2 separate regions of the Homo sapiens genome follow, and region 1 is linked to region 2. Evidence: fine-mapped expression QTL. A gene starts in region 2. The other region holds a variant in brackets. All regions are shown on one strand. Distances are from middle to middle. Region 1 has its middle 32 kb from the start of CCN3. Region 2 holds the start of CCN3 (cellular communication network factor 3).

What was found. PIP is the estimated chance that this variant, and not a neighbour inherited with it, causes the effect.
Region 1: its variant is fine-mapped to the expression of CCN3 in whole blood (INTERVAL, PIP 0.95).

The regions. Positions count from the first base shown.
Region 1 is chr8:119,447,362-119,450,271 of GRCh38, reverse strand. No RefSeq gene overlaps it. Among named protein-coding and RNA genes, the nearest start is that of CCN3, 32 kb to the right of the region's middle. The variant C/A (reference allele first, on the strand shown) is at 1,264.
Region 2 is chr8:119,415,113-119,418,022 of GRCh38, reverse strand. It overlaps CCN3 (cellular communication network factor 3), which reads right to left and starts at 1,577. Exons shown (of 5, transcript NM_002514.4): 1 at 1,407-1,577; 2 at 1,054-1,279. The coding sequence starts at 1,490. LOC124902009 (a long non-coding RNA gene) reads left to right here and starts at 1,714. Exons shown (of 2, transcript XR_007061077.1): 1 at 1,714-2,910.

The sequences.
Region 1 (2,910 bases), 32 kb before region 2:
AAAAGAAAGAAAGAAAGAAAAAAAGGCTTATTTACATTTAAGACACGATGGAAAAGCAAGACTGAATGGAAAGGGGCACAGAGATACTGGGACATTAGGATAGGGTGATGTGAAATTACTTGTTCCAGTAGAAATTTGTGGGAAGGAGGAAGTAGTCAATATGCTAAAATTCTGTAGGAGGTTCAAACAGAAAAGGGGCTTAAAGTTCGCATGCTCCACCACTGCACTCCCCAGACACTGCTGTCTCTTTAAACTAAAAGGATGATGAGCATAGCCAATTCTCTTGGCCAATTTACCAAGGGCCACTCTCTTCACTTCTTCCCTACAGGCAGAGTCTCCTGCTGGGATAGAGTCTTAAAATGCTTTTGTGGTTTTCCTTGTTAGTAGAGATGGCCATGCGATTTAAATCTGATCAAGGGGAACTACAGAAAGACCGCTAGGGAACTTTTTCTCACAGATGAAAAGGAAGAGGGCCGGGGGCCGGGTGTGGTGGCTCACGCCTGTAATCCCAGCACTTTGGTAGGCCAAGGCAGGCAGATCACAAGGTCAGGAGATGGAGACCATCCTGGCCAACATGGTGAAACCCTGTCTTTACTAAAATACAAAAAAATTAGCCAGGCATGGTGTCGCGTGCCTGTAGTCCCAGCTATTCGGGAGGCTGAGGCAGGGGAATCACTTGAACCCGGGAAGCAGAGGTTGCAGTGAGCTGAGATCATGCCACTGCACTCCCGCCTGGTGGCAGAGCAAGACTCTGTCTGAAAAAAAAAGAGAAAAGAAAAGAAAGAGAACAATGATTAAGAAGAGCCTTCTTCCTTGTCTCCTGTTCCTCCTGTTCCTCCTGTCTAAGTAGTTGTGTGAGGATGTGATCCCTGGAGATGCTCTTAAAGACATGAGGACACCATCTGAGGATGAGGGAATCAAAGAAAGGAATGAACTTACATATCTGAAGATATTATTGTGCATTAAACAAATGCTGGAGGCCACGTATCTCCTAGCTTATTATGCGAGTCAATAGAATCCAATTTGTTTGGGGAAATTTTTAGTTGAGTAGTCTGTTTCTTGCAGCCATAAGTAAGATACAACAACAAAGTAGAGAAGGGAGCATAGACTATTCTTTCAAGAAGACTTAGTGTGACTGGAAAGCAAGAAATGTGATGTAGTTTGGGTATTTGTCCCTGCCCAAATCTCATGTTAAATTGTAATCCCCAGTACTGGAGTTGGGCCCTGGTAGGAGGTGTTTGGGTCATGGGGGTAGATCCCTCA[C/A]AGCTTGGTGCTGTTTTTGTGGTTCTGAGCTAGTTCTTGCAAGATCTGGTCATTTAAAAGTATGTGGCAATTTCCCCCACCCAACCCTACTTGTTCCTCTTTGGCCTCATGACATGCCTGCTTCCTGCTCACCTTCTGCCATTATACTGAAAGTTCCCTGAGGCCTCCTCAGAAGCTGAGTGATGTCAGTGTAGAGTCTGCATAACCATGAGCCAACCAAACCTCTTTTCTTTATGAATTACCCAGTGTCAGGGTTTTCTGTTTTGTTTTGATTTGTTTGTTTGTTTTTGTGACACAGTCCCACTCTATCACCCAGGCTGGAGTGCAGTGGCACCATCTCGGCTCACTGCAACCTCCACCTCCAGGTGCAAGCAATTCTCCTGCCTCAGCTTCCTGAGTAGGTGGGACTACAAGTGTGCATCACCATGTCCGGCTAAATTTTTTTTTTTGTATTTTTAGTAAAGATGGGGCTTTGCCGTGTTGGCCAGGCTGATCTCAAACTGACTTCAAGTGATCCACCCGCCTCAATCTCCCAAAGTGCTGGAATTACAGCTGTGAGCCACTGTGCCTGGCCTCCACTGATTTATTTATAGTGTTTTTTGGTACATATCTTTGTATAATTTTCTTAGTGGTTGCTCTGGATATTATAATATATATATGTGACTTATTGCAGTCAATGTATCAATACTTTATTAATTCAAGTAAAGCATGGAAACCTTACTTCCATTTCGGTTCCTTTTGCCTTTTCCACTTTTAAATATCATTGTCTTGAGTATCAGGAGGTATTATAAGTTTTGTTTCAATGATGAAATATTATTTATAGAACTCGTGAGGAGAGGAATAGATCATTGTATGTATTTATATTTCTGTCCCTCTTCTTCCCCTATTAACTGGCAGAAGTGCTAATTTATATGAATGAATTAGCTTATAGTTATGCTTATGTTAAAAATACACTCATAAAGATTTATTGGAATATGTTCCCAGTAACTCTATCCAGGATCAAAAATATTTCTGTTGAGTGGAGTTGGGGTTTTCAGTGTCCTTACCTATAAAATAAAAAGGGGTGGAACTGATATCCATTCTAACTTCTAATCATGTAGTCATTGGGCATATTTCTTCTGTGAAACAGAAATCATAGCTTTGGGGAGAAATTTATAGTAATCTTATAATACTTCAAGCTGTGAGTTCCTCCAAATTTTGACTAAGGGTTTGCTAGTTTCATTGTTCTTTATTTGGGGTAAAGTTATTCTAATGGGGAAATTTTTCCCAACATCATTATTCTCTAGATGAAAGACAGGATGATTTAAAAGTTAAAATAAAACTGAGAGCCAGTCAGCACCACTAATCCTTACTTCCATACCTCTCTTCTCTTTTCATGGCTATTTTCTCCCTTTTGCTACCTGATAGTGGGAGTGTATGAGAAGAAACTGATCTGTCATTCATTCCAAATCTTTTCAATCCAATGGGAAAATTCTGATAACTAGAGCTTTAATAGTTACTTGGTCATTCTTACCTTCTTTGGGATAACTACAATTTCAAATGAAACCCTAAATTCATACAAAGTGTCTCCTTTCCAGTTTTATTTTATAGTTAATTTTATACCCCAGCCATCTTTAGTAAATTCCAGGATTTCCCTTTCTCTCCTTC
Region 2 (2,910 bases):
GGAAGAGGAAAAACAAGAACACAATACAGTGAAGAAGCTATGTAAGATTTGGAGGGCATGTTCCAAAACCCAAGTCCTTTTCTAGTTCAGGCGATCTGGTTTCTCATGTATCTACTGTAGAGTGATGTCCTCATGGAGGCCTCTCAGAGCAAGAAGAAACCTTCAAGATCATCTAGTCTTGCCACTCATTTTATGGATGAGGAAAGAGGTGTGCAACTGTGAAGTGATGTCCCCAAGGTCCCCTGGCCATTTTTCCCAATGTTCAGTCATTTTGCGAGAACCTCCTTAGAGTTTCCTACTCCAGCAGCTTAGACTTAAAAAGAGAAAAAGTGTACTTTATGTTTTCCAACAGGTTAGCTGATCAAATTGGGAAGGGCATTAAGATTCCTTGACACTCAAGCATAATAAAATCATCAGTAGCTTAGAGAAAAAAGTAAAAGCCCTCCTGTCCAGAAAGGAAGGGACAATCTTCAACTACAATGTTGTATCATGTGAAAAATTGATCCCCGACTGATTACGTTTTAGAAGCCTGGATTGGCTAGTTGCCTGCATTTTATTTTACTTGCAGCCAGAAAAGGGTTACATAGTTATCCCAGGAGACTAGCAGCTGCTTTGGTTCAAATGGGACAATTACAGGTGTGAAAACAAACCTGCTGGGTTTTCCCCAACTGCAGTTTGGGAAACTGTGAGCGTGTGAGTAAACCCGAGCTTCCATCAGCCCCAAGTGGCCCCCTAGAAGTGTCCGAAGGAAATGACTTCACTGGCCCTTAACTCTGCGTGGCTCCCCCTTTGCTTAGATTCTTGTCTAGGAAGCCAAGTGAGGAATGCCTTTCACCCCCAGGGCAGGTTTCCTTTCTGGCTCTGGCGCTCCCCAAAGCCCCAAGTGCTCCCCAAACCATGCCTGACACACAGTAAGTGCTCTATACATGTCATTTATTGCATTATTATTATTTGCTTATCGCCCTCTGGGAAGGGGAATACAAAAGAGAAGGGAGGAAGCAGCTTCACTTAGCTGCAGGAGAAGAGGTCAAACAGCAGAGGGAGCAGGATTACCCGTGCAGATGCCAGTCTGGTTGCTGGGGTCCGCGCTGCGATCACAGTAGAGGCCACTGCTCTCGTCGCATGGCTCCAGATCTGAGCAGCTCTCGCCACGCTGGCGGGCACACACCAGACAGCATGAGCAGCCGTCCAGCACCGCGCGCACCCCGGGGGCGCAGGTCGGCGGCGTCGCAGGGCACCGGCCCGGGCACTGGGGAGGGCAGCGCTGAGTCGCAGCGACCTGAAGGCAGGCGAGACAAGGAGAAACCACTCAGCTGGGACAGAAGACGCAGTGAGCCCGGTGACCAAATGGGGGCCACCAAGGCGGGCAAAGTAACTTGGGGGCATCTTAAGGGTGTGCCACTTACCTGTCCCAGGAGATGGAGAAGCAGGAAGGTCAGGCAAAGGCACTGCTTTCGGAGACAAAAGCTCGTGCTCTGCACACTCTGCATGCTCAGGCTTTCCCCTCTCGCTTTTACCAAACGAGACTTTCTTCGCTGTAGATTGGCACTGCTCGCCTTCCCCCTGGTCCGGTGCTTGCCGATCACGCCCAGCACAGGTTTTATAGCGCGCTCCTGGGACGCGCACAAGCCGGTTGGCTGCAGTGCAGGGAGGAGGGGGGAGATCGGCTGGGTGGGGAAGTGGAACGAACCCCGGGGTTGCCATGGCAATTGGCTGTGGGTGCTGCTCTCCTTAGGGCGCGGCGCCGGGGCCTGCGTGTGCCTGTGTGTGGCGACTGGCTTTTCCCAGAGGGTGGGGAGGGGCTGGGTGGAGTTCCGAGGCCAGGACCCAGGGCTCGCTCGAGCGCGTGGGAAGGAAACGCCCGTTTCCTCCTGGAAGTTGCTTCGCCTTCTCCCAGGACGAAGACACCACCACTCCCCACCATCCTCCTCCACCCTGACCGTTCCAACCAGGGCTGCAAGCGTGGGGTCCCCTTACGGGATGCCTGCAGTTTGGGGCCATCTGCAGGGGATTGGCAGAAGGCCCAGGGGTTTAGTCATGAGGGAAGCACATGCAAGTTTGTCACCGTTTAGGGCACTCATTGAATGTGTTGAGAGGGAGGGGAGAGAAGCAAGGGAGGAAAGGAGAGAAAGAGGAGAAAGAGAAAAGTGTGTGTGTGTTGGGGGGAGGGGAGTGGCAGGGGGAAGGGAATCTAGAAAAAAAATCGATATGTCAGGAGGTGGGGAATGCTATTGGCCAAATGGCAAAATTCTTTTGACTCTAATCCTTCTAGCTTCACTCAGTCTTAAACCCCAAGGTCCACAGGTTTGTTAGAAATAAAAGTAAAACACACACACACACACACACACACACACACACACACACACATAAAGAAAACATCATAAAATAAAACAAAGAAATCTTGGCAGAAGAAAGCCTTGAAGCACCTGCTGTAGCAGACCAAATGTGAGACGGCACACCTGAGAGTCCAGAAACCTTTGACAGTTTTCTAAGTGGGTTCAGTTCAACCACCATCACCACCATCAAAACCTCCAGCCAGGGAAGAAATGAGGAAGAAACTGGCTTAACTTGGCTGACCCTTCAGCAAATCAAATCCTTCTCTCACCGGGCATCCGCTTTCAAGAAATGATTGCTGGGGCATGCTTGTCATCTCTCATGGGAAAAAGGGAGCAGTTTTACTGCTCCAAAGGTGACATTGTTTGAAGGATTTAGAACAGTTTCCCCCCACACTTCAACACTGGTGCTGCCCCTAGGAGAACTATGCCCAGCTCTTTTGAGGATAGTTGCTTTGGAAAAAAACAAAAAACACTTTTTAAGGAAAATTATACAGGCCTGTGATGTAATTCTAGAGTTTAAAAAGAAACAAATGGCCTCTACCTCATCTGTCCCCAGCATGAAGGAAATCAAAGG